Linked DNA regions of Homo sapiens. The protein of the gene in region 1 purifies or fractionates together with the protein of each later gene. This does not show direct contact. Each region holds a gene or a part of one and is shown on either strand. Other genes may lie near its edges. The genes, in order: ARHGAP23, ASF1B, FASTKD1, SRFBP1 and DLAT.

Evidence for each region.
Region 2: the proteins of ARHGAP23 (region 1) and ASF1B purify together in Homo sapiens (co-immunoprecipitation; one large-scale study listed by IntAct). This does not show direct contact.
Region 3: the proteins of ARHGAP23 (region 1) and FASTKD1 purify together in Homo sapiens (affinity purification with mass spectrometry; one large-scale study listed by BioGRID and IntAct). This does not show direct contact.
Region 4: the proteins of ARHGAP23 (region 1) and SRFBP1 purify together in Homo sapiens (affinity purification with mass spectrometry; one large-scale study listed by BioGRID and IntAct). This does not show direct contact.
Region 5: the proteins of ARHGAP23 (region 1) and DLAT purify together in Homo sapiens (affinity purification with mass spectrometry; one large-scale study listed by BioGRID and IntAct). This does not show direct contact.

What each region holds. Positions count from the first base shown.
Region 1 is NC_000017.11:38,507,718-38,511,415, reverse strand, and holds part of ARHGAP23 (rho GTPase-activating protein 23), read right to left. Parts: intron 1,473-3,698; coding exon 444-1,472; 3' UTR 1-443.
Region 2 is NC_000019.10:14,119,590-14,124,576, forward strand, and holds part of ASF1B (histone chaperone ASF1B), read right to left. Parts: intron 2,120-4,987; coding exon 1,943-2,119; intron 1,077-1,942; coding exon 870-1,076; 3' UTR 1-869. UniProt on the Homo sapiens protein: Histone chaperone that facilitates histone deposition and histone exchange and removal during nucleosome assembly and disassembly. Cooperates with chromatin assembly factor 1 (CAF-1) to promote replication-dependent chromatin assembly.
Region 3 is NC_000002.12:169,555,949-169,560,935, forward strand, and holds part of FASTKD1 (FAST kinase domain-containing protein 1, mitochondrial), read right to left. Parts: intron 4,838-4,987; coding exon 4,439-4,837; intron 4,433-4,438; exon of another isoform or gene 2,976-4,432; coding exon of another isoform or gene 2,965-2,975; intron 1,350-2,964; coding exon 1,239-1,349; intron 1-1,238. UniProt on the Homo sapiens protein: Involved in the down-regulation of mitochondrial MT-ND3 mRNA levels which leads to decreased respiratory complex I abundance and activity.
Region 4 is NC_000005.10:121,975,111-121,978,974, reverse strand, and holds part of SRFBP1 (serum response factor-binding protein 1), read right to left. Parts: intron 3,661-3,864; coding exon 3,588-3,660; intron 1-3,587. UniProt on the Homo sapiens protein: May be involved in regulating transcriptional activation of cardiac genes during the aging process. May play a role in biosynthesis and/or processing of SLC2A4 in adipose cells.
Region 5 is NC_000011.10:112,034,724-112,039,710, reverse strand, and holds part of DLAT (dihydrolipoyllysine-residue acetyltransferase component of pyruvate dehydrogenase complex, mitochondrial isoform 2 precursor), read right to left. Parts: intron 2,439-4,987; coding exon 2,251-2,438; intron 468-2,250; coding exon 314-467; intron 1-313.

The DNA.
Region 1 (3,698 bases):
ACACATCCCCGCTTACAAGCTGAGGTGGGAGGGCAGAAGAAAGAAGCAAAAAGCCAGCATCACCCAGGATCTTTCCTTTAGTCTGAAACTTAGGGGTTCCCTAGCCACACCCCATGGTCCACAAGGGTCCCCAAGTGCAGCCACAGAAAGGCTCAGAAGGACCTATCGGGCGCATGTGTGCAGGGACACAGACCCCAGCAGCCCACGCCCCCTCCTCTTCTGCTCATCACCTCTGGAACCCCCTTCCATTCAATTAGTCCGGCCCCAGCCTTCTCCTCTGCCCTGCCAGTTCCAGCACACCAACTAGAGACACTGCCTGCTGCGCCCTCCACCCACACCATGCACCCAGGGGCCACAGAAGAGGAGGTGCAGGCTGGTGAAGCCTCCTGGTTCCAAAGGGGCTCTAGGGAGGGGTGGCGCCCGAGCGGCGCGGGAGGTGGGGATCACAGACACTGATGCAGGCGGGAGGCGGCCGAGCGGCGCGGGGGCTGGCTCTGCAGGGACCCCGTGTCCCCGGGCGCGGGCGGCTGCGAGGCAGCGGACGACGGGGCCCGCGCCTTGGTGGACTCCAGGCTGCTGAGTCCGGAGTCCTTGTTGTCACTGTGCGCCCGCGCGCCCGCAGGCTCCGGGGGGCCCCCTCCGCCCAGCTCCTTCCACTCGTTGAAGTTGAGGTCAGTCAGCGGGCTCTGCACCACCACGGTGTGGCGGCGCCAGCTGCTCCGGCGCCGCCGGGTCTCGGGCGACAGCGGCCGCCGCAGGCGCACGGCGAGCATGTCGTCCGCCGTGCCGCGGAGCCTTAGACGCAGCGCCTCCATGCGCGAGGGCCGGGAGGCCAGCGCCGCCGCCGGGGGCCGCAGCGACTCCTGGCTGCTGGACGACGCCGAGCCGGGCGGCTCCGGGGCGCGGGGACCGCCCCGGCCCGCGCCCTCGCCGTCTGGGCGGCCCCGGGCCAGGCGGCGGCGCGCCAGAGTGTCGCAGGGCATGAGGTGGTGCGAGCTGAAGGACGGCCGGCGTGTCAGGCGCCCCCCAGGCCCCGCGCCCGCCGCGCCCTCAGTGTCCGTCTCCACGTGGCTCAGCTCGCTACGCTCGTCGTCCGCCTCATCCCCCGCCCCTGCCCGCCGACCGCTAGCGCCCGAGCACACGCTGCGGTCCATGGTGGACAGGGTGGAGTAGCCCGACACAATGGAGCGCGTGTCCGCGGCCGGCCGCTCCTCCGGCGCCGCCGGGGGACTGAGGCGTCCGGGGGCCTCGGGGGCGACGGCGCCAGGCAGCGGCCCCTGCGGCCGCTCCTGAGTCCCCGGCGCTGTGGCCCCCGCCCCAGGCTTGTGCGCCTCCTGCTCCGAGTCGTCGTCGGTGCTGCTGCCCAGCCCCCGCGCCTCCCGCCGCTTCTTGCGCTTGCGGTTGACGGCCGAGATGAAGGAGATCGCCAGCATCTCCCGGGCGTACGGCTCCTTCTTGGGGGCCCACGAACCCTGTGTGGGAGACAGGTCAGGATGCGGGGGGCGCCCGGACTCGGCCCCCTGCCGACCCCGCTCTACCCGGTCCACCCCCACGTCACGGCACCCAGTCGCCACAAGCCCCAGCCAAGGCCAGCACCCACGGCCGCATCATAAAACGCTCCTCCTCCAGCCCCGTGCCGCCCTCCGTCCAGAGACTACCCCCGCTGGCCCAAATCTAGGCTCTCAGCTCTTTCTTGTGAGGTGGGCTGGTCTCCCAAAGCCCCCTTCCATTCTGTTTTCCGTATCCAGCCCTGGCTAAATCCTTTAGACACGGCTCTGGTGATGACAATCTCTCCACAGTGAATAACGCTTGGCAGCCTGAATCCGTTTCACACACGCCCCTGGGGTGTCATCACCAGAGCTTCCTGCATGCTGATCCCCAAATCCCCGCCAGGGGCGCTCTCTGACCACAAGTCCCCCACCTCCTCTCCACCCGCTGCCACCTGGAAACCTGCCTTCCCACCTGCCCAGCATCTACAGGCCTCTCCAGGGCAACCCGCCCAAGTTCACGTCCTCCCCTTTCCGCCGGACCCCACCAGCTCCCCACCCCGCCAATCCCCAATCCCAGGTCAATCCCGCCGCCAGCTCCGCCCCTGCAAGTGGCTGAAAGATCCCGTATGGTGTCATGGTTTGGATTGGAGCCGCTCCCAAACTGTGATTTCCAACCCCAAGTTGGGCAACTTCATGCCGCTGTTCTCACCTGAACCAGCCCTCACTGCTACACCCTGTGGTGTTTTGGGGCCTTGGCCTTTCACACTTTCCCAGGAGGGCCCATGCTGCCGCCCATGGCCTTCTGGAAGCTGGTTTTCATCCGCCCTTCTGGCCTCTCCTCTGCCTCTTGGGAGGTTCTTCTTGCCCGCCCCCCGCCCCGCCCCTGCCTTCCCCTGCCTTCCCCACTGAGACTCAGTGTTCCCAGGACTGTTTTTGGCCCCTTTGCCTTCTCTGTTCGTGTTCCCTAGAAAATACCATTCCCAAGCAGCGCTGCTATCCAGGCCTCCCTGTCCAACACCACACTCACTTGAGCTCCGGGACTCTTCTTCCCATTGAGAATCCATTTCTACCTGGGTGTCTGTAGGCTCTTAAAACTCACCTATCCGGAACCACAGCATCCTACCTACCCCTGCCCCAAACTGCCTCCATTCACACTGCTCACCTTAGGGCGGTCTTGTGACTCCTCCCTCTCTCCTCCACCCACAGCCAAGTCCTGGATTCTTTTGAAATGGCTCCCAAAGCCAACTCCTCCTCCTCCTCCGGCAGGCCCTCATTCTGCCCTCTCTGGGCCCTCCTGCCCCTCCTAATAGGGTTTCCTGCCTCCACCCTTGCCCCAGCCCGGGTCTCTCCTCCAGAGCCACCATTCTGAAGCAGGAATCTGATCCTCACCCAGCTTTGCTCAGAAGCTTGCATGCCCCAGCACCCACCAGGATAAAGCACAAGTTCCCCAGTTCAGCACATGGGGCTCTTCATAACCCAGCCCCAACTTTCCCAGCCTACTGCCCTGCTCTGCCCTGACCCCAACCCCAACACAGCCCTCACTGTGGAAATACAGCCCTACCAACCCTTCCTTTGATGTGACCTACACTGTTACATTGCTGCCAGCCCTTAATGTCCCCCTGCCCTATTTGCTGGATGAGCTCCTACTCACCCTACAAGGCCCAGCTCGAACATGGCTTCCTCTGTACAGCCACTTCCCAGCCCTCCCTTTGCCTGAGATGGGAGATCACTTCTCTATGTTCCTGTCATCTCACTATGCTCCTAGCTCTTCTCACATCAGCCTCATCAAACTCTGAGCTCCTTAAGAGCAAAGGCTGTGACTTGGTTGTTTCTGCATGGCACATAACAGGTGCTCAATAAACATGAAATGAACAAACAATTGGTGAATGAAGTCCCCTTAACACAGGAAGCCTTGTAGAAGCAGACGCTGGGACTGGTTCCTGTCTTGGGCTGGAATGACCTGACAAGGTCACGCTGCCCTTTCAACCCCTCCTCACAGACCACCTCTTGTTTCAGCCATGGTGTAATAATGAATGGAGACCCAGATGCCTCTTGTGGCCACTGCAGCCACTGTCCTTGCTCTCACATTAATTAGTTCTGAGAAAACCAGAGCATGTCAGGGACTCAGGAGTCACAGGCATGTGGCTCCTGGGCCATGGTTGCCCACAATGCACAACACCAGAAGGCACCCCCTGGAGTTGTGCAATG
Region 2 (4,987 bases), on another chromosome or scaffold:
ACAACAGCATCCACATGGCAGCAAGGGGACCAGGGCACAGAGAGGGGGAGCGGGCTGGGGAGGGACAGTTTTCAGGGTCCCAGTTGCTTCCCTGGCTTGAAATCACCCTGGTCCTAGCAGAGGACAGGTTAAGGCTGCCAGAGGCAGAGGGTCCCTGACCCTGGCCCGGAGACAGACTGCCCAGGCAGGCCCTCTGATACCATCTTCCAACCATGGCAGCCTCCAGGAAAAGCCAGATCCATTTAGGAGATAACAGGAAGGTGGCTGTGATTGACAGGAAAGGCAACATGGTTCCTCAGCATCCTGCTGATCACACCTCTGGGAGGGGCTGCTGGATTGAAGAGGACCTAAGAATCTTCCTGGGAGCAGGACAGAAATGGGATCTAAGTCTACCTACTAACTAACATTCCCGCCTGTGACACCAGAAAGCTGGAGTGGGTCTGCTCAGATGTACAGGAAGAGAAAGGAATGACAAAGCCTTTGGCTCAGCAGGACTGGAGCCTTGACAGGCACTGACCAAGAAAGCCTCTAGGTGGGCCAGGGAGGTCTGTGGGAAAGCTTTGGATCAATGGTACTCAAGGGTGCACAGTGGCACAGTGGCCTTAGTTAGAATTTATGAAGACGAAAAGAACACAAGTCAGAATTTAGAACTGAAGTACCTGCTTCTTATAGGCCTGTAGAGGAAAAGCGAGATCATCCTTCTGGCCAGGACTAGGGGAGACCCAAGGCCTGTTCTTTCCTAGGGGCTGAGTTTGACAGACCTGGATTGCAGCTGATGGCCCCCAAAGTCCTCTAGATGGGCCCTGCAGGACTCGCTGGGAGGCCTGGTTGCCCCTCCCGGCGTGCTGGGACACTCTGGGTTCCTGCAGTTAGATGCAGTCCATGGAGTTCTCAGGGAGGAGGCCAGGGATGCAGCCAGGGAGCCCCAAGCCCTTGATAGGAGTGCAGTTGAGTGGGAGGCCGCAGCCCAGGGAGGGGTCCTGGGTCTCTATGGCCTCCAGCCTGTCCATGTTGTTGTCCCAGTTGATATGGAAGCGGGTCACCCGGGGGTTCGAGGCCAAGATGTTCCGCTGGAGCTGGGGCAGGAAGAGGAACGTCAACCCTTGTAGGTACGCCCTCTCCTTGGTCCCATAGAGCCAGGACACCCCCAATCACCCATCTCAAGCCCAGCAAGAGCAACCTACATATGGAACTCCAGAAAACACCTGTGGCCAGGACCTTATTTATTTATTTATTTATTTATTTTTTGAGACGGAGTTTTGCTTTTGTTGCCCAGGCTGGAGTGCAATGCTGTGATCTCGTCTCACTGCAACCTCTGCCTTCCGGGTTCAAGCGATTCTCTTGCCTCAGCCTCCTGTGTAGCTGGGACTACAGGTGCAAGGCACCATACCTGGCTCATTTTCGTATTTTTAGTAGAGACGGGCTTTCACCATGTTGGCCAGGCTGGTCTCAAACTCCTGACCTCAGGTGATCCTACAGCCTCGGCCTCCCAAAGTGCTGGGATTACAACGCGTGAGCCACTGTGCCTGGCCCAGGACTTTTTTTTTTTAAGGGACAGTCTCACTCTGTTGGTCAGGCTGGAATGCAGTGGCACGATCTGAGCTCACTGCAGCCTCAAACTCCTGGGCTCAAGCGATCCTCCCACCTCAGCCTCCAGAGTAGAGCACACCACCCATGTCTGGCTCATTTTTTTTTTTTTTTTTTTTTGCGGGGGTTAGGGACAGGGTCTCACTATGTTGCCCAGGCTGGCCTAATCTTAATTCTCTAAGACATGCCTTTGAGAGACAAAGGTCTTTTTCTCCTCTTCTAACACAGTACTGTAAGAACTGAATATTACTTGAAAACCTTAAGAAGTGACCTTGACTCTCAATTTGAATGGCTGAACTCCCCCCAAGTATAAAGAACGGCCTTGTGGGAAGCAGGAAGTGGAAACAGGCCCCACCTGGGAGAAATCTGGCTTCATGGGCGGGTTCTCACGCAGCTCAGGGTTGAGGTACTCGTTGTTGACGTAGTAGCCCACTCGGATGAACTCCTGTCCATGGTAGGTGCAGGTGATGAGGACCACAGTCACACCCACGGCATCAGTCTCTGGGATGAGGGATGGGTTGGGGGCGTCGGCCTAGGGGAGACACATCCTAGGCCTTAGCAGTGCCACAGCCATGCCTCGATGTCATTAGTACAAAGATTCCCAAGCATCATGTATTTACTGAGCAAAAAGTATGCTCTCTGCCCTCAGTTTTCTTTTTTTTACTTCTGCCTCTCGGGTTCAAACAATTCTGCCTCAGCATCCCAGGCAGCTGGGACTACAGGCACACACCACCACACCCGGCTAACTTTTTTTTTTTTTTGGTATTTTTTTTTAATGGAGTTTTGCTCTGTTGCCCAGGCTGAAGTGCAATGGTGCGATCTCGGCTCACTGCAACCTCCGCCTCACGGGTTCAAGCGATTCTCCTGCCTCAGCCTCCCGAGTAGCTGGGATTACAGGTGCCCACCACCATGCCCGGCTAATTTTTGTATTTTTAGTAGAGATGGGGTTTCGCCATGTTGGCCAGGCTGGTCTCGAACTCCTGACCTCAGGTGATCCACCCGTCTTGGACTCCTAAAGTGTTGGGATTACAGGTGTGAGCCACTGCGCCCAGCCTTTTTTTTGTATTTTTAGTACAGACGGGATTTCACCATGTTGGCCAGGCTGGTCTTAAACTCCTGACTTCAGGTGATCTGCCCACCTCGGCCTCCCAAAGTGTTGGGATTACAGGTGTGAGCCATTGCGCCTGGACTTTTTTTTTTTTTACACAGGGTCTGGCCTCCCTCTGTTACCCAGGCTGGAGTGCAATGGCGCCATCATGGCTCACTGCATCCTTGAACTCCTGGGCTCAAGCAATCCTCCTGCTTCAGCCTCCCAAATAGCTGGGACAACGGTGTGTGCCAACATGTCTAGCCAATTATTTTTTGTAGAGACAGGGTTTCTCCATGTTGCCCAGGCTGGTCTCAAACTCCTGGGCTCAAGCGATCCTCTCACCTCAGCCTCCCAAAGGGCTGGGATTACAGGTGTGAGTCACTGTGCCCAGCCAGGAGTTGTCAACTGATGGAAACACAGAATCAATCCCACAAATGACTACAAAACGTTGACTGTGGCAGGGAGAGGTGCGTGGTACTCTGGAGGAGTGTGGTGAGCCGGGGGACAGTGGCATGAAGCTGAACAGGTGAGGCAGGTGGTATCAGGCCACCCGGGGGCCAGCTAAGGGATTGGGAAAGGGCAAGAGAGTAAGCAGGAGGTTAAGTGCCACATCACTCTTGTGATCTGAAAAGAAGCCTCTGGCAAAGTGTGGAGCCGTGACAGGAGACTGTAGTGGAGCAGAAGGCTTACACCAGTCATCCTGGAGAGGCAGTGGACTTGGCTTAGACCAGGCAGTAAAGAACAGATTCAGGGTGTACTACTGCAAACAAGACCAGCCACGTAATTGGTGCAAAATAAAACCAATGCAAAATGAAAACACCACGCCCCTCCAGAAAAGCTATTAGGTTTCAGACGGTGACAGCAGAGTATCGCACCAAGTGTGGGGTCCTGTGCAGCTGCCTGGGTTGCACACCCAGGAGGCCAGTCCTGACTGTTGAGTAGATAGGGCCTGTCAGTGGATTTAGTAGTGGTGGCTGAAGGGGTTAGATAGGATGTGGTAGCTTGGATTAGGGCGGTAACAGCAGTGATGGAGGTAAGGGAGTGTATCCGAGCAGAGGATCCTGAAAAATCACCTGGAGAACTCAGAATCTCCATTTGTTTTTTCTTTCTTCTTTTTTTTTTTTTTTTTTTTTGAGATGGAGTCTCACTGTCACCCAGGCTGGAGTGCAGTGGCGTGATCTCGGCTCACTGCAAGCTCCGCCTCCCAGGTTCACGCCATTCTCCTGCCTCAGCCTCCTGAGTAGCTGAGACTACAGGTGCCCGCCACCAGGCCTGGCTAATTTCTTGTATTTTTTAGTAGAGATGGGGCTTCACCATGTTAGCCAAGATGGTCTCAATCTCCTGACCTTGTGATCCGCCCACCTTGGCCTTCCAAAGTGCTGGGATTACAGGCGTGAGCCACTGCACCGGCCTTCTTTTTTTAAAGAGATAGCTTTTCCCTCTGTCATCCAGACTGGAGTGCAGTGGTGCAATCACAGATCACTGTAAACTCCTGGAACTCCTGGGCTCAAGCGAGCCTATTTTTTTTTTTTTTTTTTTTTAGAGACAGGGTCTCACTCTGTTGCCCAGGCTCGAGTGCAGTGGCGCAATCTCAGCTCACTGTAACTTCCGCCCCCTGGATTCAAATAATTCTCGTGCCTCAGCCTCCCGAGTAGCTAGGATAACAAATGTGCACCACCACATCCAGCTAATTTTTGTATTTTTTAGTAGAGACAGGGTTTCACCATGTTGGCCAGGCTAGTCTTTAACTCCTGACCCCAAGTGATCTGCCTGCCCCAGCCTCCCAAAGTGTTGAGATTACAGGTGTGAGCCATGGCACCTGGCCTCAAGTGAGTCTTCTGCTTCAGCCTCCCTAGTAGCTGGCACTACAGGCCTGCATCACTATGCCTGGTTAATGTTTTTTTTGTAGAGACAGGTCTCGCTGTCACCCAGAATGCAGTGCAGAGGTGCAATCATAGCTCGCTGTAGCCTCAAACTCTCAGGCTCAAGCAAGCCTCCTGCTTCAGCCTCCCAAGTAGCTGGGACGACAGGTGCAAGCCACCACACCCGGCTAATTTTTCTATTTTTTGTAGAGATGGGGGTCTCGCTATGTGGCCCAGGCTAGTCTGGAACTCCTGGCCTTAAGCAGTCCTCCCGCCTCTGCCTCCCAAAGTGCTGGAAGCCACCACACCCGGCCAGAATCTACATTTGACAACCCAGGTGGGGTGCTGCATGAGAGCCATTTAGGAGTTACAGTCCATCCTCATTATTCATGGGTTCCATATGTGCAAGTTCACCTACCTGCTAAGTTTATTTGTAACCCCAAGATGA
Region 3 (4,987 bases), on another chromosome or scaffold:
AGAACTGCTTGAGCCCAGGAGTTCAAGATCAGACTGGGCAAAATAGTAAGACCCTATCTCTACAAAAAATTTTAAAACTAAGAAAGAAAAGTAAGAAAACAAAAAGAAAAGAAAAAAATAAAAGGAGGGTCTTTATGCTCTCTATTTTACAAGGTTATGATGCTCTGCTTGAGTGTAATAGCACAAATAAAATGAAAAAGCTATAAACAATTGTCATTTCTACTTTGAAAAACAAACCAGCACTTTGGGAGGCTGAGGCGGATGGATTCCTTGAGCCCAGGAGTTGGAGACCAGCCTGGGTAACATGGCAAAACACCATGTCTACAAAAAATACAAAAATTAGTGGGCATGGCGACACGTGCCTGTAGTCCCAGGTACTCAGGAGGCTGAGATGAGAGGATCAATTGAGCCTGGGAGGTGGAGGGTGCAGTGAGTTGTGATGGCACCACTGCACTCTAGCCTCAGCAACAGAGCCATACCCTGTCTCAAAAAAAAAAAACAAAAAAAAAAACGGCCAGGCACAGTGGCTCAACACTTTGGGATGCCGAAGTGAACGGATCACTTGAGGTCAGGAGTTCAAGACCAGCCTGGAGGGCTGGGTGCGGTGGCTCAGGCCTGTAATCCCAGCACTCTGGGAGGTTGAGGTGGGTGGATCACTTGAGGTCAGGAGCTCCAGACCAGCCTGGCCAACACAGTGAAACCCCGCTTCTACTAAAAAATACAAAAATTAGCCAGGCGTGGTGGCACACGCCTGTAATCCGGGCTACTCAGGAGGCTGAGACAGGAGAATCGCTTGAACCCGTCTGGGGCAGAGGTTGCAGTGAGCCGAGATGGCACCACTGCACTCAAGCCTGGGCAACAGAGCAAGACTCTGTCTCAAAAACAAACAAACAAACAAACAAACAAAATTAGCTGGGGCATGGTGGTGGGCGCCTGTAGTCCCAGCTACTCAGGAGGCTGAGGCAAGAGAATTGCTTGAACCAGGGAAGCAGAGGTTGCAGTAAGCAGAGATAGTGCCACTGCACTCCAGCCTGGGCAACAGAGTGAGACTCTGTCTCAAAAAAACAAAAAAAAAAAGAAAAGAAAAACAAAGTAGAACATAAACAGTGGCTTAAGCATTAATTCCTTATTTCTTCAAAACAACTGGTAGATTAAAGAAGAAAACCATTTTTCCTTAGAAAAAAATAGGTGCTTGTGAATGACAACAAACTTAACGTCGTAAATTTCAGAAAAGATACCTTTTAATCAGACATGAGTTTCTGCTTTCCATATCTCCCATTGCTCCCAACACTGCCAGGGCTTGCTCGCCAGTTAGGTCCTCTGACATCAATAACATAGTTGATTTAAGTCTAGAAGCAAAAAAAAAAAAGTTTTTGGTTGAAAGACTGAAAATTAGCTTGCAATTTTTTTTAAATAACAGTTCTTGGGTAACAAATAGGAAAAAAAATATAAACAAAAACTGAATCCAATATATAATTCTAGTGTTCTCCCCACATTACTCGAATATAAAATATTACTGAATAAAGAAAAATATATTGTCTTCTTCAATGAAATTCAGGCCTCATTATAATCCAATCTTAAACTGTTTGAAAAATACAGGTAAAAGATATTTTAAGATTTTCAAATAATACAAGGTTATAATGGTTATAAAATACTATGATTCAGTGAAATTATTCAATACTAGAGAGCTAAGAAATGAACAGTTGATATTCTGACAATTTCCCAAATGTTTTAAAACTGAATAGGAACATCTAGGAGTCAATAAACCTGCATATTATCAGAAATCTCATATACTAAGCACTTGATATAACAGTATAAACTGAAAATTAACAAAGCTGGTCCATTTTGACTATGATTAGTTGTCATTTGAACTATCCAAAGTAGTGCAGTAATGTTAAGTACCATGATACGTGTATTTTTTAGAATCATTTAGAAAGCAAGCTCGAAACGTGACATCTGATAGGATAAACTAATTGTCTATTCACATGGATAACTCCATGCCATCCTTTCCACCAACCTTTTCAAAGGTTTCAAACCCAGTTTCTCCACAAACTTTTCCCAACCACTTCAGTCTATATTTTTCTCTCACTTCTGTCTGCTCACAGCACTATCCATATCACTAATTTTATTGTTTCTTCATAAACTATGTTGTTACAGTATTTACATATTTCAATTATATCTATCCTCTCAATTGCAATATAAATTCCTTGAAGACAGACTCAGTTAAACCCAACTGTTTTATTGCTTTAGCACTGAGATTTTAACAGTACTTGGTGACAAAAAACGGTTCCAATAAAGTTTGTTCGTGTGTGTGTTTCTTCGTCTGTTTTGAGATGGAGTCTCACTCTGTTGCCCAGGCTGGAGTGCAGGAGCATGATAGCTCACTGCAACCTCCGCCTCCCAGGTTCAAGCGATTCTCCTGCCTCAGCCTCCAGAGTAGCTGGGATTAGAGATGCCCACCATTGCACCTGCCATCACTCCCGGCTAATTATTTTTTGTATTTTTTTGTTTGTTTTTTGAGACAGAGTTTCGCTCCTGTTGCCCAGGCTGGAGTGCAATGGCGCAATCCTGGCTCACTGCAACCTCAGTCTCCCAGGTTCAAGCGATTCTCCTGCCTCAGCCTCCCAAGTAGCTGAGATTACAGGTGCCCACCACCACGCCCGGCTAATTTTTTATATTTTTACTAGAAACGGGGTTTCACCATGTTGGCCAGGCTGGTCTCGAACTCCTGACCTCAAGTGATCCAACCGCCTCAGCCTCCCAAGGTGCTGGGATAACAGGCATGAGCCACCACACCCGGCCCTTTTTTTTTGTATTTTTAGTAGAGTCGGGGTTTCACCATGTTGGCCAGGCTGGTCTCAAACTCCCGACTTCAAGTGATCTGCCAGCATTGGCCTCCCAAAGTGCTGAGATTACAGGTGTGAACCACCGTGCTGGGCCCCAATAGTTTTTTTTAATAATCACCTTGTTTCCATCTTGATATAGTCTTAAGATGTGCTCTTAAATTTTTTCATATAATTCAAAGTACTTTTTTTTTTTTTTTGAGTCAGAGTTTCGCTCTTGTTGCCCAGGCTGGAGTGTAATGGCGCGATCTTGGCTTACTGCAACCTGCACCTCCCGGGTTCAAGCGATTCTCCTGCCTCAGCCTCCCGAGTAGCTGGGACTACAGGCGCTGCCATCATGCCCGACTTATCTTGTATTTTTAGTAGAGACGGGGTTCCTCCATGTTGGTCTGGGTGGTCTTGAACTCCCGACCTCAGGTGATCCACCTGCCTTGGCCTCCCAAAGTGCTGGGATTACAGGCATGATCCACCGCACCCAGCCACAAAGTACTCTTAAAAAATAAAACTTTCTCCGTAAAGTTTTCCCTAACAGAGTAATGATACAGATTCCCCTATTGTGCAAGTCTTGGAACCCCTGCTTAAGTGAATCTACTAATCATACTTATGTGTTAGGACTATTATATAAAATTCTTATTTTTTTCTTTTATTTTTTCTTTTGAGACAAGGTTTCATTCTGTGCCCAGGCTGGAATTCAATGGCGCAATGTCAGTTCACTGCAGGCTCAACCTCCTTGGGCTCAGGTGATCCTCATGAGTAGCTGGGAATCTAGGTGGGCACCACCACATCTGGCTAATTTTGTATTTTTTTGTACAGACAAGGTTTCATCATCTTGCCTAGGCTGGTCTCAAATTCCTGGGATCCAGGGATCCACCTGCCTCGGCCTCCCAAAGTGATGGGATTAAAGGCGTGCAACGCCGTGCCCAGCTTGTAATTCTAAATATTTCATACAATTATGCTGGGTGGGGGAAGTTTATGTCTAGTATAAATCCAGTCACATGGCCTAGGAAGAGAAACTCTTATCTATTAACCGTATTTGTATGTTAATTTAATATTTGCTCATCATTATATTTCAAATATTACTACCTACATCAGTATCTAGCAAAACTGGAAATTCCTAAATGAGAGGCGCCACACAAAATTTGCTCAAACCTGACATGGGAACATATGCCCAGTGCATAATAAATGCTTTGATGATTATTGTGATGAAGACAGCAAAGCATAAAATGGCCCTCTGCTATGACTACTATAATTCTAAATATTCCACAGACTTACACTGGGTGGGGGAGTCTTATATGTGTAAATCCAGTCATGTAGCACAAAAGGGAGAATAAAAACACATGGCGTTTCCCCTCATTTTTTTTCATGTTGGCCCAGTATCAGAGGTTTACCTTTCAGAACACAGCAACAGACTAAGAGTTTGAGATGTAAATTAGAATAATCAGAAAAAGAATCAAGGAGCAGAGCATAAGAGATTATTTTCCCTTCCACAACCTAATAGGGTGATATTTGTACCTTCCAGAGCTGCAAGGAGACCTAAGCTTGAAGGCTCCACGTATTCACAACAAAAAAAGTAATGCATTTTAAACTGAACTTACTGTTTCTTTTCTTCAGGTCCTGCAATGGGTCCCAATGCTACAAACAATTTTACAAAGCTAGCAGGATGATTACACAGAGGAATCATTTCAGTTAGCTTCTTTTTAGCCATTATAATAAATTCAAAACTATTAAATTGTAGAAATTTGTATACACTAAGTATTTTACTGATGGAATCCAAATCAAGGTGGTCCACATTACTTAAAAATACGTTATTACATCTTTCTAATAGTGGTTGATAACGATATCTAACATTTCGAAGAAACTTTGCTATGCTTTTTGCAACGTTGACCTCAGAAGAATCTATGGTGTCAAAAAGAAGTTCTGTTTTGTTCACCAGTTGTTGTTGAAAATGTCGTGATATTAAAGAAGATATGTTGACCATCAAGACAGACAAGGAACTGAAAAAGAAAAAAGATGCAAAGATTTTTACATCAATTAAGAATGATCAATTCTTTTTTTTTTTTTTTTTTTTTTTTGTAGAAACAGAGTCTTGCTATGTTGCCAGGGCTGGTCTCAAACTCCTGGGCTTAAGCAATCCTCCCACCTCA
Region 4 (3,864 bases), on another chromosome or scaffold:
AGAATGTAAAACTAGGGGAAGAATAGAACAAAAGGAGAAAGTTTTAAACTAGAGGAGAAGTAAGAGGTAGCAGGCAGAACAAGGTCTCAAAGAAGAATACATAAATTCTCATCTTAAAGAATATTCAGGATAGGAAGAAGTAACAGCCTTAAGAGAGGAAGAGGTTAAAAAAGAATACAGATAGGCCAGGAGTGGTTGCTCACGCCTGTAATCCCAGTACTATGGGAGGCCGAGGTGGGCGGATCACCTGAGGTCAGGCGTTCGAGACCAGCCTGGCCAACATGGCAACACCTTGTCTCTACTAAAAATACAAAAGTTAGCCAGGCATGATGGCAGGCAACTGTAGTCCCAGTTACTCAGGAGACTGTGGCAGGAGAATCATTTGAACCCAGGAGGCGGAGGTTACAGTGAGCAGAGATCGGGTCACTGCACTCCAGCATGGGCGACAGAGAGAGACTCCATCTCAAGTAAAAAAAAAAGAAATACAGATATAGGCTACTGTGTATATTTACCTGTCAGGAATTAAAGGATCTGAAAACACGTTGCACATCTTTCAGTCTTTTTTTTCCTAGATGGCAAGTTTCATGTTTACTAAATTATCTCCTCCAATATCTAGGAAAGTGAGTCTGGATATATCATAGGATGTTCTCAACTTACTGAAGCAGTATACTACAGTGGATAACATAATTAGCTTTATAATCAGTTATAAGTTGCTCAGTTTCTCTAAGCTTGAGTTTCTTATTCTGTAAGACAGGGATAAAAATGATATCTACCTAGTGAGACAGTAAATATAAAACACATAATATAATGCCTGGCACATAGTAAATGCTCAGTAAAAGCTAGTTGTTACTTTTATTATTGAGTAAGAGACTTGTTGCACATTTTGAGTAATTTCAGTATATGCTTGAATTTTACCATCTCCTTCTCCAGTTAAGTAACTTACTGATCTATAAGTGTTGATAGGCTAATTTAACTAACTTTCAAAGAAAAAGAAACTGTTTTAGAAGGCAATATTTCTACTAATATCAAAGTTAAAAGTATGGACACTATTATAGAAAAGGCAGCAAAGACTTGGGTTTCATACACCATAGTCTATAAAATTAGAACCTATGATTTTATAGTGTAAAGATCAAGCCAATTTTTTTTCTTAGTTGGCCAGAAAAAGCAAACTCTCATTTCTAAAAATACTCATGATTTCTTCACAAAGAAGTCATCCTGCAACAAAATACCCTATTATTATAGAAAGCAAGAATAGGATAGTATGTCATCAATAAGACTATAAAAATGAAGCAGTGTCTGAGCCAAGGAAAAAATTTCTCTGGAAAAATAAATGAGCAGAGGTCTTTTCTCCAAATTTAATTGAGATTGAGAGTTTGTTTTGTCATCATTTATTTGATACTCCCAAGTAGGTAATAACCATTTCCTAAGAAAATTACAAATGACCTTTTAATTAAGAAAAATGCTTTATTTATTTGCTTTGTTTAGAAAAGACAACAAAATTTGTAAAAGAACCATAAATAAGGAATAAAATTTGACACGTAAGAACAGCAAATATATAGTCTTTCTAGTATTCATTTTATATTTAAATTCATTCCAGTTTTTAAAAAGCATTACAAAAGAAGTTGAAGTCAGAGTAGCCAACCCAGCCTGCCCTAACTCCTGCCACAAACTCAAGACATATATATACTATGAATTTTATGAATTTAAGGAATACATAGGCTATGAATTTGGCTTTCTATGATGCAACCATTCCATTGCGCAATCACAGGGAAAAATAGAACACAAATCAAACCAAACCAAACCAAACCAAACCACGATAGTGATGTGGTAATCTTGTAAACCTACAAACTTTATCACTGAATCAGATTTCCCTTTGCTGATGAGATTCAAAACAAGAAACAGAAAACAGGCTTTACATTTAGATCAAAAAGGACAACTTTTCTTTCTAATTAATCAAATGTATCACTGAAATTTACAAAAGGGAAGTATTCTAAAGATTGAGTATCTTTTGTTCTCAAACTCTTCATACACCACATACAAGTTATTATATATAACAAACCATGGAAAGAATGTAGTGTGTGTGTATGTATATATTTTTTATATATATAAAAAATTTAACAAATTCCAGTTTACTCCAGTTTTTAAACAGTATTACAAAAGAAGTTAAAGTCAGAGTAGCCAACTATACATTGTATGTGTATGTGTATGCACATATATATATTATATATATATATACATGCATACACACACACACTGCATTCTTTCCATGGTAAAATAAAATCAGCAATTATATAGTAGCTCAAAGCCTCTGAATAATTTAAGACTACAAAAATGACTATTCAGAAGAAATTACAGGGAAAAATTTAGGTAGGCAATGTAATTTAGTAAGAACCTTGGTTAAGAGAAAGTGAAAGAGATAAATTGTAACTTCCTATTTTATTGCTATTCTCAAGACAAAATCTCTAAAGATTTTATTTCTCATAGGAATATCATTTTAAAAAGGTATATGAAAAAACTAAATAATCTGCAAACCACAGAGACACAAATGATCACTGACAGTCAAATACAGAAGACTTTTTTTTCCTGAAGGACTGAATAAAAAGGGAATTATAACCTTGAGAAATAAAAGTTATATCAGATGGATTCCATGAATTTTATAATAGTGTGCAGCAGAGGGAAGGAAGAACACAAGAAACAAATATACTTCATATCAAAGAGTCGTTTCCTAGATGTTTTTATTCAGATTAACTGGGATAACTTTGTCCTATTAAACACTTTACTATCCGTTTAAAAGGAAGAAAGGCTGAGAATCTTTGATAACTTAACTCAATTAAAATAGTTAGAGAGTTTTATTTCTCTTTTACTTAATTCAAAACTTGAAAGTTATACCAAAATATAATAGGCAAACATGCATGCAAAATGACCCTGCAATTAAGAAAATTGCTGGGACCAAATGTTGTTTTTAAGTTCTACAGTAAAACAGTCTCCCAGACATTTAATGTCATGTCATTTGGTAAATGAAAGTTTCCTCAAAGTAAGAGCAGCAAGAAGACCTAAAAATTATGCTAGTGAAGAGTCTGACTGAAAAAAAAAACAAAAATATGGGATCACATTGGTCTAACACTAATTTTATTTGAAGTTACTACAGAACTGAATAAAATGCCGATACCAATACATAAAAATTTATTGAGCTGGCAACAAGGAAAGCATGATGTCAGCCACCAATATCACCATCCACATTCCCAAATAGCATGAAGACTTTAATTCTTGAACTGACTTCGTGCTAAAGTTACAGTAAAAATAAAAACCTGAGGCAGGAGGCATTATTAAACATAGATGAATTTAGTTTGGCACAATTTTGACTCAAATTAGCCTAGCACTTTAACAAATTCAGTCAAAAACAGAAAAATGCAAGCTTAAATGTTACAATTTTCTAAATGTGCTACATTCTTCACCAAACAGACTGATACAAGATGTCTTACGCAACTCTCGGGAATATTCAAATAAGCAATACCACACACAAACAAAATGCAGGATAACAGGATACTCAGAAACATACACACATACACACCCACACAAGTCCTTACCTTCATGGCATGGATTTCTTCAAGCAATCTTTGCGCCCGTCTTTGGTTTTTTAACAGTGCATCTTCAGTACCCCTGCAAAAAATACATTACGATATGTAGCCAGGCAAAGCATTAATTTTAGACTTATAGTGTAATGGATAATCACTTCATTTCTTTTTAGAAAAGCGTAATAAATCTCTAAATAACAAACACGCCACTATCCTACACTGTCCATTTCCCCCACTCCCAAAACACACCTCAATTTACTAACCAAACCCATATGTTGGAAAATGGCAA
Region 5 (4,987 bases), on another chromosome or scaffold:
ATAATCAAGTCCCATAACCAAATTTTACATATACTTTCACCAAACAAGCAGTTTCCATGAATAGAAGAGGAAAAAAAAAGGTATCTAAAGTGTATGGGTAGATTCTAGGCAGAGTAAATAAAGCTCAGTAAAAGTTTCCCTACTCTGTGGTGGCAACAAAAGAACTATTTCTCCCTTCTGAAGGAATTATTAATGATTGTCCCTACTATCCCAATTATAAGTACGGCTATACATAGTTGTACTTGCAAGTCTTAAGGAGGAAATTCAACTAAATTTTAACTTTATAAAGTCCATTCTATAGAAACAGATTTACCTTTTACTTGTGTAAGATCAATCCCTTTCTCTACTGCCAACTTCTTTGCAAGAGGGCTAACAAACACCCTTCCCTTTGGTCCAGCAGGAGTAGCTGGGCAGGGTGCTGAAGGTGTAGGAGCTAAAGGCTGGGGAGTTGGAGGAACAGCGGCCACCTTTTGAAAAAAAATTACAAATTGTTTTAATTCACCACTTCAAAGACTGGTCTGAAAGATTAAAAGTTTACATCTTATTAATAAATTAAAACTATTTTAATTAAATATTAATAACTTTCATTTTTCCAAAGATCATAATGTACTTTTCGCCAGCTTAACCAACATAATGTAGTAATACGAACAGCGAGAACAATATACTTCTATATCAAAGACAGAACAGTTACCTTATTCCATAACAACATGAAGCACAGAATTGAATATTGCCAATCAGTGTATAGTATTCTACAGCCTTTCTTCACTTTAATCTCTTACCACTTCTTTATTCGCATTCTTTTACATCACCAACATGATTTTTATTTTTAATTATCCTAACTTCTTTTTTTTTTTTCTTTTTATTTGAGACAGAGTCTTGCTCTGTCACCCAGGCTGGAGTGCAGTGGCGCAAACTTGGCTCACTGCAACCTCCGCCTCCTGGGTTCAAGCAATTCTCCTGCCTCAGCCTCCCAAGTAGCTGGGATTAAAGGCACGCACCACCACGCCCAGCTAATTTTTTGTATTTTCAGTAGAGATGGGGTTTCACCATGTTGGCCAGGCTGGTCTTGAACTCCTGACCTCAAGCGATCCACCTGCCTCAGCCTCCCAAAGTGCTGGGATTACTGGCATGAGCCACCACACCCAGCCAGCTAATTTCAAAATATAAAATTATGCTGTAAGGCCCCATGTTGAAAAGTATCTTAAGAAATACGGCCAGGTGTGGTGGCTCACACCTGTAATCCCAGCACTTTGGGAGGCCGAGGTGGGTGGATCACCTGAGGTCAGGAGTTCGTGACCAGCCTGGCCAACACGGTGAAACCCCTTCTCTACTAAAAATAAAAAAATTAGCCGGGCATGGTGGCTAACACCTGTAATCCCAGCTACTCGGGAGGTCGAGGCAGGAGAATTGCTTGAACCCGGGAGGCATAGGCTGCAGTGAGCCAAGATCACGCCACTGCACGCCAGCCTGGGTGACGGAGCAAGACTCCGTCTCAACAACAACAACAAAAGAAATCCAACAACAATGCTACTTGCCAGCTTCCCACAAATGTACAGTAGTCAGAAATCAACTTTTCTCTTATAGAAATGTTTACCTAGTTTAAACTCACATGATTCTAGCATCTGTGAGAATCACTGAAGCTTCACTGTCAGTGTTATCTCTGGTTGGAGTTATACAAGTTCAGGTTATAGTTATATAGTGTATCAAGTATTTGGTGATATAATAAATTCTAGGCAAAACAAGTCATGTCAAGGTTCCACTGTATCACAAATATATGCTTGACCTACTAAGTCAATAACAAGAGGATTTCAAGTGACAGAGATTATTCAGTATATTTAATAATAAATGGGCAATGAAGTGAGCTATGATTGCACCACTGCACTCCAGCCTCAGCAACAGGGTGAGACCTTGTCTCTTAAAAAAAAAAAAAAAGGGTGGGGCAATGAAGCCTTACTTTCCACAAGCATGGTATCTGTATCTAAAGCAGAAAGAGAACATGTCACTCAGCTTTGTTCTCAGCAGGACTCTAGATAGCAGGAAGAAAAAAGCTACAAGGCCCAAACTATCAACCATTAGGTGAACAGTGCAGTACAACAAACACTATAGGTCTCCACAAATGTTAATAAACTATCTCCCTCCTCAGTCATAGAATCTTGGAGGTGGAAGGAACCTAGGATATCATCTAATCAAAACTCCTTAATTTAGAGATGAACAAGGTAAGTGTTTCCTGAATTCTAGAAGCATACCTACCGGGGGTGGGGTAGGTGGTGGCACTTGTGGTTTTAAATCTGTTACTTCGGTTGGCCTATAGTCAGCAAATGCTGATATATCTGCCTCTTTTTCTACAATGATACAGAGTGGGGTTCCTAGAGGGACATCTCTTGTGCCTTCAGGGACCAGGATTTTTGCCAGATAACCTTCTTCCTGTACTTCAAAACCTTAAATAGAAAGAAAAAACATTATGGGACTTAAGAGATTCCACTATCCCTCCAAACTCACAGCACAGTTTTAAGTAAAGTGATTTTTCTCATTCAAGCTAGCTATATAGCCTTTTTTGCAACCTATTTAACCTTCTGTGTCTTGGTTTCTTTACCTACAATACGGGGATAATAATAGTACCAATCTCACTGGATTGGTACTGGGATGTTATACATTTAAACAGATTAATATTTTTCAAGTTCTTAGAAATAATACAACCTGGTACAAAGTAAATGCCAAATAAAAATCTGTTCAATAAAACTATGAAAGATTACAGACAGTGGTTAGTTCTCAAAGTTATTAAAAAATCTCCAAGGACAGTCCCCATGCAGACTCACAGGACTCTAAGATGGTGTCAGCTATGCTGCTAAAGATAAGAACCACATACATGCCTAATTAAGGGAGCTACCAACCTAGATACTAATGTTGGATTTCAGCCCTAAAAGCATCTTTGGAACTTTTCAAAGAGGTTATACTTGATATTATACCAAGTATTTCAATGTAAAGAATTACAGCTTTACTGGGATTTCTATGGTGTTGACAACTTATATTTTATTCAACTACTGCCTTCCTTGCAAAGAACTTAAACATTTAGGATTGCAAAAGTAAAACTAAAAGAAGCCATTGGCTTTCTGTACTGTTGTGCCTCTCCTTGATGAACACATCTTTGATGAATCCTTCCATTTCCCAGCTGAGAATACCCAATAAAAAATATGTTTAGGCTGGGCGCGGCGGCTCATGCCTGTAATCCCAGCACTTTGGGAGACCGAGGCGGGTGGATCACCTGAGGTCGGGAGTTCGAGACCAGCCTGACCAACGTGGAGAAACCCCGTCTCTACTAAAAATACAAAATTAGCCAGGCATGGTGGCGCATGCCTGTAATCCCAGCTACTCGGGAGGCTGAGGCAAGAAAATCACTTGAACCCAGGAGGTGGAGGTTGTGGTGAGCCGAGATCGTGCCATTGCACTCCAGCCTGGGCAACAAGAGCGAAACTCCGTCTCAAAAAAAAAAAAAAAAAAAAAAAAAAAAACACACACACACACACACACACACACACACACACATATATACACACACATATATATATATACACACACATATATATATGTTTAAGTCTGGAGATATATATATATATGTTTAAGGCTGGGCACGGTGGCTCACGCCTGTTATCCCAGCACTTTGGGAGGCCAAGGTAGGTGGATTACCTGAGGTCAGGAGTTCAAGACCAGCCTGGCCAACATGGTGAAACCCCATCTCCACTAAAAATACAAAAATTAGCCAGGCATGGTGGCAGGCGCCTGTAATCCCAGCTACTTGGGCAGCTGAGGCAGGAGAATTGCTTGAACCCGGGAGGTGGAAATTGCAGTGAGCCAAGATCATGCCATTGCACTCCAGCCTGGGCGACAAAGCAAGACTCTATCTCAAAAAAAAAAAAAAAAAAGGCTGGGTGCGGTGGTGGCTCACGCCTGTAATCCCAGCACTTTGGGAGGCACAAGGCAGTCAGATCACGAGGTCAGGAGTTCAAGACCAGCCTGGCCCACATAGTGAAACCACATTTCTACTAAAAATACAAAAATTAGCCGGGCGTAGTGGCATGCACCTGTAGTCCCAGCTACTCAGGAGGCTCAGGCAGGAGAATCGCTTGAACCCAGGAGGCAGAGGTTGTGGTGGGCCGAGATCACGCCACCGCACTCCAGCCTGGACAACAGAGCCAGACTCTGTTTCCAAAAAAAAAAAAAAGAAGTGTTTAAAATGAAAAGGCTCCTGGGCCACAATAGACTTCAAAGTTCAACCAAGGTAACACTTCTCTAGTGACTAGTCTCTATAGTGACACTGGTATTCAAGTTAAATGGTGAAGCAGAACTACTGTTTCCAAAGTTTCTGTGTTTTTAAGAAACAGAATCCTTTCTTCAAATAAAATTTATGGGGAAGCACAAAATACAAAAAGATAGAAAAGAACTGCTCTGCTGGAAGTAAGGCAGGGAGGCAGGGCTGTAAGGTCCTGCTCTTTAATTCCCCCTTTGCCTCAAGGTGCCTTAAAGGAATGATGGGATTTGAAGAACACAATCTGAAAACAACCAAGGCAGAGGATGCCCAGTACCTCCCATTACATCTTTGGGAAAGGCTTCCCTTTGGTGGTGATTATGAAGCAGAGAGGCTGGGTGCGGTGGCTTATGCCTGTAATCCCAGCACTTTGGGAGGCCGAGGCAGGCAGATCACCTGAGGTTAAAGAGCTCGAGACCAGCCTGGCCAACATGGTGAAACTCCATCTCTACTAAAAATGCAAAAAATTAGCCAGGCATGGTGGTGCATGCCTGTAGTCCCAGCTACTCGGGAGGCTGAGGCAGGAGAATTGCTTGAACCCAGGAGGCGGAGGCTGCAGTAAGCCAAGATCGCACCACTGTACTCAAGCCTGGGTGACAGAGCAAAACTCTGTCTCAAAAAAAAAAAAGAAAAAGCGGGGGTGCAGAGAGAAGAAATTCATAATACTACAAATCGCCATGGCTC